3 linked regions of the Homo sapiens genome follow. The protein of the gene in region 2 interacts with the protein of the main gene of each other region in a biochemical or structural test. Each region holds a gene or a part of one and is shown on either strand. Other genes may lie near its edges.

Region 1 (3,600 bases), on a different chromosome or scaffold from region 2:
AGAAGAGTCAGTTAATTTCACATGAGAGCTCTTTCATCTTAATAGAAGTCTCTTTTTTTTTTTTTTTAAATCATGGTTGGCTCAGACTCAGAAAGACTGAGTCTGAGCAAATGCAATTTTACATGTGTATGGTAGTAAATACATTAAAGGGGCAGGGTGCATGCTGTCAGTGTGGTATTTGGAATGAGAAGAACTGAGATGTTTTTGAATGGCTTGAGCAGGTGAGGGTCATTTCTTTAAAAAGAAGGACATACACACACTCCTGATTGAAGTGGCAGACTTTCTCAGAGACATAGGGTTACCCAGCACATAAGCTACTTACTGCAAGTATGCAACTCTTAAAATATTACATCCACACCTTTACATATGCCCTTGGTTCATCTTCAGTTTGCATGTCAAAAAGAGGGTATCTTTAATCTGATAAATTGATCTCAGGAAGAGGGTCAACCTTTATAATGGTATTGGTGAGATTTTTGTCAGGGCCATATTCTAGTTTGTTAATCAATAATGTTTCTCTCTCTCTCTCTCTCTGTGTGTGTGTGTATATGTGTGTGGTGTGTGTGTCTCCCTTCCTACTTTACCTGTGGCCAAGAGGACCTCCTTCAGTTTCCCTTAGTGTTAATTTCACATATGTAATTAGTAAAACGGTCCCCAAAACTAGTTAATTAAACAATTTCTAAAAAGTTTCAATCTCGGCAGATTCATACCGTTTTGTTATGTAGGATGAAGCACATAAAGTATCTTGAGACATTCTTCATGTTGTAGAGACTTGAGGGTTAATGATGAGGCAAGCCTGTCAACAACCAGAGGTATCTCATGTCCTGGATTTCCTGGAGTGTTTACCGTGTGTTACTTTGAATGAATGACCTGAGTGAGGATGCTAAGATTTTCCTTCTTAATGTTACTCCTTTCAAAATCATAATGTTATAGACATTCCTTTATGGTAATATTATTTTAATAACATTCAGGTACATAGCTGGACAAAAGTTTGATATGACTAGGTAAGTGATCTAGCTATAAATGAAACACACCAGTGTCAAAAGCTGTTTGGAAGTGATCTTGTACTCATTTTCACAACCAACAGTTGTGATACACTTTTTTAAGACCTCCATTTATGCAGAAGTGATACACTTTTAAAAAGCATTTTTTATTTCAGAACATTTATCTGAGAGAGCCTAATCGAGAAGAATATTGCATTAGTAAATTGCTCTGCCTAAGACAACTGCTGCTCTGTTTCTCTTCACATTTTAAAACCTAAGTCCCAAATCTCAGTCTGTAGTTAAGAGCTTCAAACAATAATTACCTCTGTGAAATGAGCAGAAGTCCTTAAAAGGGCCTGCCGGTTTTCCCGCAATCTTTTACAGGGTGAGCAGCGCTGTATCCACTGATAACCCAGCTGCTTAGGAACTGAGTAAAGCCGGCTCCAAACTTCTCAGCTGTTGACAGGCTTGACTTGCTGAGAACACTGGTTAAATATAGCACCCGCGAGCTCAGCTCCTCAACATAGCCATTGCTCTGACAGTGTTGTGAAGGGAGCAGAAGAGGAGAAACCTAATCTCCGAACCCAACAACACCTAGCAACAGTAGAAAAAACTTTTAAACAAAAGTCTGGGTGGGAGATATACAACAACTTCCAATTTCTGCTGATCGGGATTTCAGGGAGAAGAAGCTGCTTTCCCTCCTCTCTACTCTGTTTCCTGCATGACTTCAGCTATTGGCTGGTCCTGGGAAAGAAAGTGGGAAAAGCTTTTTCCTCTGTATTCTTTTGGGCTGGATAGTTTTTGAGAACTCGAATCTGTCTTGGGCTGTGAGACAAGCCACTGGGTTCTTCAAAGGATAAACTACCTACATAGAGGACATACCTTTGGTTAAAGGAGCTGCCGTCAGGTAAGACCAAAATAAATAAATACTTACTCTCTTAAGAAATATCTGTTTCCACAAGAAGAGAGTTCTCTCCCATTCTGTTTTGTCTGTTTCCTTTGATTCTTCCTGTTCTATGATGTGATAACACATTTAGAAGTTACGATAACCATTGTGAATTATTTTTAAAAAGTCAGAAACATCATCTCTTCCTCAAAATTATACCAATTCCTTTTTAAACACATAATTTTATGGTGTTTTAGTAGACATCAAAATATTTCTCCCAAGTTAGTGCTCTTCGGCAGGTAACAGAACTATGACAAAGGACAATTTCACATCTCCTTTCACAATTGGGATGGCTAAGCAATGAAAAGGATATCTCCCCTAGAAGTAAAATAACTTTCATTTACTGAAACTAGCTAAGCAGCTTGTGTTTGGTAAATGAGAGGAAAGTCCCGCATGGTGTTTGTATTGCTGTACTTTTTAAACCTGCTGTTGCATGTGTCTCCTTTTGCCTAATTCTCTGATTACACTGGTACACCTTGTGCTGGTTCTGACCTCGTTACACTAGAGTCACCCCAAATGCTTCTGACTGGGCATAAAATATGCCTGGTATTAAATCACTACTCTTGAAGTTGTTGAATATAACTACTCAAGATAATGATATTTGTGTACTTTTAAAAAATAAATCAATACTTGTATTTAGATATAACAGATTCTATTTTTAAAAACTTAATTAGAAAACATTTTCTGTTAAGTTGCATGTGTGTGTGTATGAATGTGTTTACTATAGTGTAAAGGAAATCCTCCTTTCAGCTGATGGCATCTTGTCTCCCCTTCCATGAGTTGCCATGCAATTTTATCAGAATTGCTTATAGTAACCAATTTCATGTTGAATATGACAACTTATGGTTGTACATTGTTGATATAGTTAGTATTGACATCTGGTGGTTTGTAATTGGGGTAGATTTCCATAAAAATATTTTACCTCTAAATGAATATGATGATTTGAATAATTTTTTAGTCTAAGGATAATATCAAAGAAGATATAGAAGCACATTTTAATTGGAATTTTTAAAGTCTATTCTATCAATGTAAAGAAAGAATTTACCCAAAACCAGTTTTTAACATATTATTTGTTGACAAATAAGAATGTATCAACCTTTTCAGAAAATGATCTTCTTTTAAGAAAAGCTAATTAAAGCTTATATAGCATATGCTCAGGAAAATGAAATAGGGCACTCATTTCAGTATGTGTTATGTTTTATAATTCTGTTTACTTGTTTATACAGTACATAAGCGAATCACATATACAAATATGTATAAATAATAGTGCAAAATGCACTCTGGTAAGTTTACTATTAGAGACTGAAACTCCTGGTGCTTTAGTAGAGATGAAATATCTTTGTCTTGAAGGAGTTTGAAAAGTCAGAACTAAATGCTTTACATTTTTCTTGTTTTTATCCTAAGAAGGGTCACATTGTTGACTTAAAAATGTATGTGTAAGGCCAAAATCTACCATTGATTCTAGGCATGTAATTTCTTTTGGAGTCAGTGGGACAGTGTGGCGATAACTAAGTGCAGCATTTGGCCCTGTGTAAAAGTCATGTTTGCTGATGAAGTGAATTTTTCAGTATCATTAATTGTCTTCATTGTTGTACATTTATTCTTGAGAATCAACAGCAATTCAGCTCAGGCTAAACAACACGGTTTCCTCCACTATATGAACAATCAGGCTCT
Region 2 (3,729 bases):
CAGGGGCCTCCCATTTCCAGTGGCAGGTTTTCGTGATATCCAGTTATGACCGGTGACTCCTCCAAGAGGTGCCTGTGGTCAGCAGAGGAGGGACCTTGTTCCACTGAGGCAGGAAGATGAGAGAGACACTGGGTTCTCTGATGGGTTCACCAGCAGACCCTGTGAAATTCATAATGGCCCCTAAGGTAGGGGTTGCCTGACATGTTCAACTTGGATTTAACCCTTAAGGCATAAGAAGCCGCTGAAAATGTTCAGACGTTACAAAACTAGGGCCGGGCACGGTGGCTCACGGCTGTAATCCCAGCACTTCGGGAGGCTGAGGCGGTTGGATCACCTGAGGTCAGCAGTTCAAGACCAGCCTGACCAACATGGTGAAACCCCGTCTCTACTAAAAATACAAAAAAAAAAAAAATAGCCAGGCGTGGTGGTGCGTGCCTGTAATCCCAGCTACTCGGGAGGCTGAGGCAGGAGAATCACTTGAACCTGGGATACAGAGGTTGCAGTGAGCCGAGATTGCGCCGCTGCGCTCCAGCCACAGAGCGAGAAACTGTCTCAAAAAAAAAAAAAGAAAGAAAAGAAAAAACCGGCGAGGACTGAGGTAAACCACAAAATTGTCCAGGCTTTTTATGTGGAGGGAATTTGCAGACTCACGTGCAGAGAACCCAACAAACCCAGACTTTGGGGCAGCTGAGGCAGCTAGAATGTGTGGGGTGTGGTACCAGAAAGGAAGGAGTTACGCCCAAAACAAAGAGCTCCAGCAATCTGCGCGTGAGCCCGCTTGCATCTTGGGTTGGATCCGATTTGCTGGTGCACACAGTGAAACCTCGTGGAGCTGGACCAAGAGCAACTTGAAGGGGAAGAGTAAGTGTAAGGGGACAGATGAGCAGGACTCACACAGGGCCGTGGTTATTTCAGTTCCCACCAGCCAGAGTATAGAAGCCACTTTAAATACAAGGAGCTTTCATGACACCTTAGAGGAAACACAGCTTGGAAGTGGCGCAGAATAAGCTGCAGAGGAAAGGCCACTCCAATGCCGTGGAAACAAGTGCAAGGCAAGCCCTGGAAACACCACTGCCTGCTAGCACGGAGTACACACAGCACTCTTGAGAGAAGGAAGCCAGGCGAAGTGGCTCACACCTGTAATCCCAGCACTTTGGGAGGCCGAAGCAGGCGGATTATCTGAGGTCAGGAGTTCAAGACCAGCCTGGCCAATATGGTGAAACGCCGTCTCTACTACAAAAAATTAGCCATGTGTGGTGATGGGCGCCTGTGGTCCCAGCTACTTGGGAGGCTGAGGCAAGAGAACCACATGAGCCCGGGAGGCAGAGGTTGCAGTGAGCCGAGATCGCATCACTGCACTTCAGCCTGGGCAACAGAGCAAGACTCCTTCTAAAAAAAAAAAAAAAAATTCACGTCCAGAATCTAATCAGTCATGGGCAGACAAGCCAAAGCAGAAAAATGGACTTGTCACTGGAGGGGGTCCAGTAGCAGGCCCAGTTTTGATAGGATTAGCCAACAAAGACAGTAAACAATTATAAAAATGTTCCCTGTGCTCAAAGAAATAACACAAAAATGTGACTGAGGGCTGGGCGTGGTGGCTCACACCTGTAATCCCAGCACTCTGGGAGGCCGAGGCGGGTGGATCACGAGGTCAGGAGATCAAGACCATCCTGGCTAACATGGTGAAACCCCGTCTCTACTAAAAATACAAAAAATTAGCCGGGCGTGGTGGCGGGCACCTGTAGTCCCAGCTCCTCCAGAGGCTGAGGCAGGAGAATTGCTTGGACCCGGGAGGTGGAGCTTGCAGTGAGCCAAGATCGTGCCACTGCACTCCAGCCTGGGTGACAGAGCGAGACCCCGTCTCAAAAAATAAGAAAACATGACTGAGAAATGGAAGATACAGAAAAGAAGCAAGTTGGACAAAATGTCACTGGAACTAATCTCCCAAGTAGAAGAATTCCACATTGTTTACTGAGATAGTTCCCCTTCGAGGAGGTGATGCTTAACTCCTCACTCCAGAAGCCTGGGCTTTACCTAGTGACCCTCTTCCAAAGAGCAGAGCACAGAAGCAGGAGGAGCAGCTTTCCAGTGGAGACCTCCAGCAACACAGCCTCACCAGGGACCATGCTCACCATCAGCAGTGACATGCGTATCACTGTTGTGTACTCTTTTTTTTTTTTTTTTTTTTTTTGAGACGGAGTCTCGCTCTGTTGCCAGGCTGGAGTGCAGTGGCACAATCTCGGCTCACTGCAACCTCCACCTCCCAGGTCCAAGCAATTCTCCTGCCTCAGCCTCCCACGAAGCTGGGACTACAGGCACCCGCCACCTCGCCCGGCTAATTTTGTTGTATTTTTAGTAGAGATGGGGTTTCACCGTGTTAGCCAGGATGGTCTCAATCTCCTGACCTCGTGATCCGCCCACCTTGGCCTCCCAAAGTGTTGGGCGCGTCAGCCACCGCGCCCGGCCTGTTGTGTACTCTTGATAGGATGATGAGAACAGCACTCTACCTCTTTGATCTTCCTCCCAAAAACATACGTAACCCCAGCTAATGATGAAAAAACATCAAACAAATCCAAATTGAGAGACATTCCACAAACTGTTTGACGAGTCCTCAAAATTGTCAAGGTTCTCAAAAACTAGGCAAGTCTGAAAGGTGCCAGAGTCAGTGGGACTGAAGAAGATGTGACAACTGGATGGATTTTGGATGATGTCCTGGAGCAGAGGAAGGATTGGGTAAAAAGCTAAGGAATCTGATTAGAATGTGGGTCCTAGTTAACAATGTGTCTAATGTTCTTGAGACAACTGTACCACACAAAGGCAGGATGTTAATGATGGGGGACACTGGTGTAGGGCATGTATTCTAAAGTAAAAAGGTGGTTCTTCAGAGTCACCGGAGCGGTTTAACAAAACATTAGAAACTTCAGAAGAAAAGATTCCTGAACTAAAAGCAATGGAAACTGTCCACAGTGATGTACAGGGAGAAAAAGGACTGCAAAAACTTAGCCGAGCTTCAAGGACATAATATCATGTGGTCTAACGTATTTGAGGTTCCAGAAAACAGTGGGGAAGAGAATACAGAAATATGACCAAAAGGCTGGACACGGTGGCTCCTGCCCGAAATCCCAGCACTCTGGGAGGCTGACATGGGTGGATCGCTTGAGCCCAGGAGTTCAAGACCAGCCTGGGCAACATAGCAAGACCCTGTCTCTATAAATAATACAAAAATTAGCCGGGCGTGGTAGTGCCTGCCTGTGGTCCCAACTACTCGGGAGGCTGAGGCGGGAGGATCACCTGAGTGCAGGAGGTGGAGGCTGCAGTGAGCCATGATCGTACCACTGCACTCCAGCCTGGGCAACAGAGCCCTGTCTCAAAAAAAAAATTATGGCCAAAATTTTTCCCAAATTTTTGAAAAGCTGTAAGCTCACAAATCCAAGAATATCAGTCTTAAGCAGGATAAAACCAAAACCATATCAAGGTACATTATATAATCAAAGTGCTGGAACAGGCTGGTGAAGAGAAAATCTTAAAAGCTCCAGAAGAGGCCGGGCGCGGTGGCTCACGCCTGTAATCCCAGCACTTTGGGAGGCCAAGGCGGGCGGATCACCAGGTCAGGAGGTCGAGACCATCCTGGCTAATACAGTGAAACCCCGTCTCTATTGAAAATACAAAAATTAGCCGGGCGTGGTGGCGGGTGCCTGTAGTCCTAGCTACTCGGGAGGCTGAGGCAGG
Region 3 (3,729 bases), on a different chromosome or scaffold from region 2:
AGGAACATATTCAGTATTTATTTGCTGGCCTTAAGGAGCCCAAGGTGTATTTCTCCTCTTGTTTCAAGATAAGGCTTGGTTTTCAGCTGGTGATGAGGGTAATCGTCTGATATTAGGGAAGATTGAATTGCGTTAATCTCTTAGCCATGTGTGGGGAGGCCAGATGGACCTGCTACTTTGTAGCCACAGCCACACTTGACCTCTTTGAGGTTCCTTTTCTCCACCAGCCTGGCTGCAGCGTGGTGAGGAAAAGCATGTGGTTTGAAGTTGCAGCCCTGAGTTCAAGTCCTAGTTTCTTCCCTTACAATGTAACCCTGGCCCTGCTCCCCTTACTGCAGATTCTGCCAAGAGCCTTACCCTCTCTAAGCTTCATTCAGTCCTGTATCGTGGGCATGGTAATAGTACTGAATGCAGAGTTGCTGAGGATTAAATGCACGTTAAGTACATAGTACAGTTCCCAGCACACAGTGATCATATATGTGATAGCCCTTTTTGCAGTTATTTTTATCAAATGGCAATCAGAGAAGCCTTCCAGGACAACTTTATCTAAAATAGCACTCCCTCCTCTGCTTTATTTTTATACAAAATTTTATATAGCATTCCCTTAGTCTGCTTTATCCTTCCTCATAGTATTTATCACCAGCTGACATATATATTCCTGTCAGCCCCACTAAAATGTCAGTTCAGTGGCCGGGTGTGGTAGCTCACGACCGTAATCCCAGCACTTTGGGAGGCCGAGGCAGATGGATCACCTGAGAGGTCAGAAGTTCGAGACCAGCCTGGCCAACATGGTAAAACCCCATCTCTACTAAAAAAAAAATACAAAAAAATTAGCCAGGCATGGTGGCGCACACCTGTAATCCCAGTTACTCGGGAGGCTGAGGCAGGAGAATCACTTGAACCTTGGAGGTGGAGGCTGCAGTGAGCCAAGATTGCACCACTGCACTCCAGCTTGGGCGACAAAGCCAGACTCTGTTTCAAACAACAACAACAACTACAACAAACAGTTCGGTGAAAGCTAAGATTTTGGCTGTTTTGTTCATTTTTGTATCCCCAGTGCCTGTAAGCATGTTTTGCACATAATGGGGGCTCAAACGTTTGTTGCAGAAGTGCCTCTTACAACACGTGCCACTTACAACACAGTGCAGTGCTTGCTTAGAGAAAGTATTCAATAAACCCCAGGCTTCTTAGGCTTCATTTTGCCCCTCTTTTATTTATGCACAATTAAGAATATATTTTTTCTGGGATGTTTTTAGAATCAGACCTTGTCTGGGGTAAACAGTTCTGGAAGCCTCCAGCTGAGCGATGCCCTTGAAGTAAAGTTAGGATCATCCAAGAGAAAATGTGGGCCTCTGTGTCTAAGCTTGGTTATATTCCAGGAGAACCTTCTGACTTGGAACTCTTGGCTTCTCACAAAGGATAAATATCAGTGGAAGTGGATGGGACAAGGAGGGGGCAGGCCCCGGCCTGACCTCTTTCCTTTTGCATTGCTCCTTTTGGTTGACCCACTTCGTAAATCAAACAGCTTCTTTTTACCATCCAGCTCGAAGTTTGACTGCAGTGTCCTTGAAACTGTGGAGCTATGCTTAGCGTCGCTGGATTGAAATCATAGCATGGAGCACATTCAAGGAGGACTTGTTGCTCGGTGGTAGCTGCTGACAGAGATGTTCTTTTTCAAATGATTTTGTGTTGTTGTGTCTGTTCTTTGGATAAGTGTCTTCGCCTTCCTCCTCTCTTCATGCGGCTGTGGAGCCAGCACCACTCGGAAAGCTGGCAGTTCTGGGCATGTATTTCTAGGCTGCTGAGCAACGTGGGACTGCCTCTGTGTTCTGATGTGCTAGCTGTCCAAATGTTGATGACAGATGCCTTAGGCAGGAGAATGGGAAGAGTGACCTCCTGCTGCAGAAGTAAGGACATTCAATAGTGACTTTTTTCCCCTGGAAAATTGCAAAAGGGGAATGGGGCTGTTTGGAGAGCTCGAGGCATTTAGATGAAGTGAAATGCTGCCTTGGCAAAATGACGGAAGGAAGATTACTGAGAACTTGGCTGAAACTAGGTGATCAGTCATTCCCCAAACAGAGGGAGAGACATCCCCACCCTTTATGCTATGGGATAGGACAGTTTGCCATAGTCCTTAGGGATATACACAGCAGGGAGGTTTTGACAGTTAAGATAACAGTAAGGTCAGCAAGAGAGCCAGCTGGCCCACCCCCTCACTCTTGCCCCAGGAGCTCAATTAAAACTCTGCTGGGTAGAATCCTGACTTCACATCTGGCCTCCATTCCTTTCCGCATTGAACTGTGTGCCTAAGACAGGGTAGCACACACAACTTGCACATGTAAACCATCTTTGTTTGTCATTTAGGGGACATGATGGCAGGAAGTGTGCAGCCGCTCTTGATAAGCTTGTATTCTGGTGTAGGTCTGTAGATAAGGCATGCAGTAACCTCTCAACCCAGAAACATAAAGCAATTCTGGACTGGAGAACATCTCCAGAAGCCGGTGAGAGTCTGCCTGTCTAATATTTCTGTCTCCAGACAAAGTTGAATCAGAGAAAGTTATCAATAATCCCCTGTCCTCCACCAGTCAGTCGCCAAGCATTGGCAGTCTATGTATTGAGAATCAGGTTCCAGATTCTATGGAAAGGATGTAATATAGTACTCAGTCCTCTACTAAGCTATTTAACCAGATCTCTGGGGACATCCACCCAAGCAAAGCAATGCCTTTCCAAGCCTAGACTCTTTTTTTTTTTTTTGAGACGCAGTCTCGCACTGTCGCCCAGGCTGGAGTGCAGTGGCGCGATCTTGGCTCACTGCAAGCTCCACCTCCCAGGTTCACGCCATTCTCCTGCTTCAGCCTCCCGAGTAGCTGGGACTATAGGCGCCCGCCACAATGCCTGGCTAATTTTTTGTATTTTTAGTAGAGACGGGGTTTCACCGTGTTAGCCAGGATGGTCTTGATCTCCTGACCTTGTAATCTGCCCGCCTCAGCCTCCCAAAGTGCTGGGATTACAGGCGCGAGCCACCGTGCCCGGCCTAGACTCTTTTTCTTAACTGTTACTGTTTTCCTCAATATCCTGCAACCTTCAAGGTTGGGACATTTTTGTTAAACCTGATTTCCATGAATTACACTCATTTTCTGTGGTCAGTGGGCAGTCATCTTGAAACCTGGTCTTCAGCCCCACTCCCTTCGACACCTACTTTTTACTACTATCTGTCTCAGTCTTCTCTTTCCTGGATTGAAGACAGAACAAAAGTGATCAGGTTAATAAGTCAACTCTCAAAGCATTTCTTGAATTCACACAGAGTATAGTAAGATACAAAAACGTGACTTGGTAGAAGACTTGGATCCTGTCCACAGCTCACGGCCATTTGCTCTCTCCAGTTCTTTTGCCATTCTCCTCCGAACCAACCAGTCCTTGACTTGAGACTGGGCTTCTCTTATCTATAGGAAGCTCTTCTAGGGGGTAATGGAAAAAGGGTTTTGAGGCTCTTTGTTCTTACTAAGGGCGGGAATAGTAAAGGGAGGAGAGAAAAGAGGGATGGAATTGTAGTGACCCAAGAGAGCCCCTGGAGATTTTGTCCAGTGGCTAGACAGCCTGAGGTTGTACGTGCTACGTGTGGGTAGGATTTTGTGTTCTGTTTGAGGAAAGATCTAGAACTAGGCACAGAGGACACAGTGGTGATACAGTCTAGTAGTAGGGAGAGACATTAATCAAGTAATTATTTAT

The links.
Region 1: the proteins of HSF1 (region 2) and FILIP1 form a complex in vitro, tested with the Homo sapiens proteins (one study listed by BioGRID).
Region 3: the proteins of HSF1 (region 2) and MINK1 form a complex in vitro, tested with the Homo sapiens proteins (one study listed by IntAct).

The regions. Positions count from the first base shown.
Region 1 is NC_000006.12:75,491,701-75,495,300, reverse strand, and holds the start of FILIP1 (filamin-A-interacting protein 1), read left to right. Parts: upstream 1-1,500; 5' UTR 1,501-1,887; intron 1,888-3,600. UniProt on the Homo sapiens protein: By acting through a filamin-A/F-actin axis, it controls the start of neocortical cell migration from the ventricular zone. May be able to induce the degradation of filamin-A.
Region 2 is NC_000008.11:144,298,045-144,301,773, forward strand, and holds part of HSF1 (heat shock factor protein 1), read left to right. Parts: intron 1-3,729. UniProt on the Homo sapiens protein: Functions as a stress-inducible and DNA-binding transcription factor that plays a central role in the transcriptional activation of the heat shock response (HSR), leading to the expression of a large class of molecular chaperones, heat shock proteins (HSPs), that protect cells from cellular insult damage.
Region 3 is NC_000017.11:4,836,208-4,839,936, forward strand, and holds part of MINK1 (misshapen-like kinase 1), read left to right. Parts: intron 1-3,729. UniProt on the Homo sapiens protein: Serine/threonine kinase which acts as a negative regulator of Ras-related Rap2-mediated signal transduction to control neuronal structure and AMPA receptor trafficking.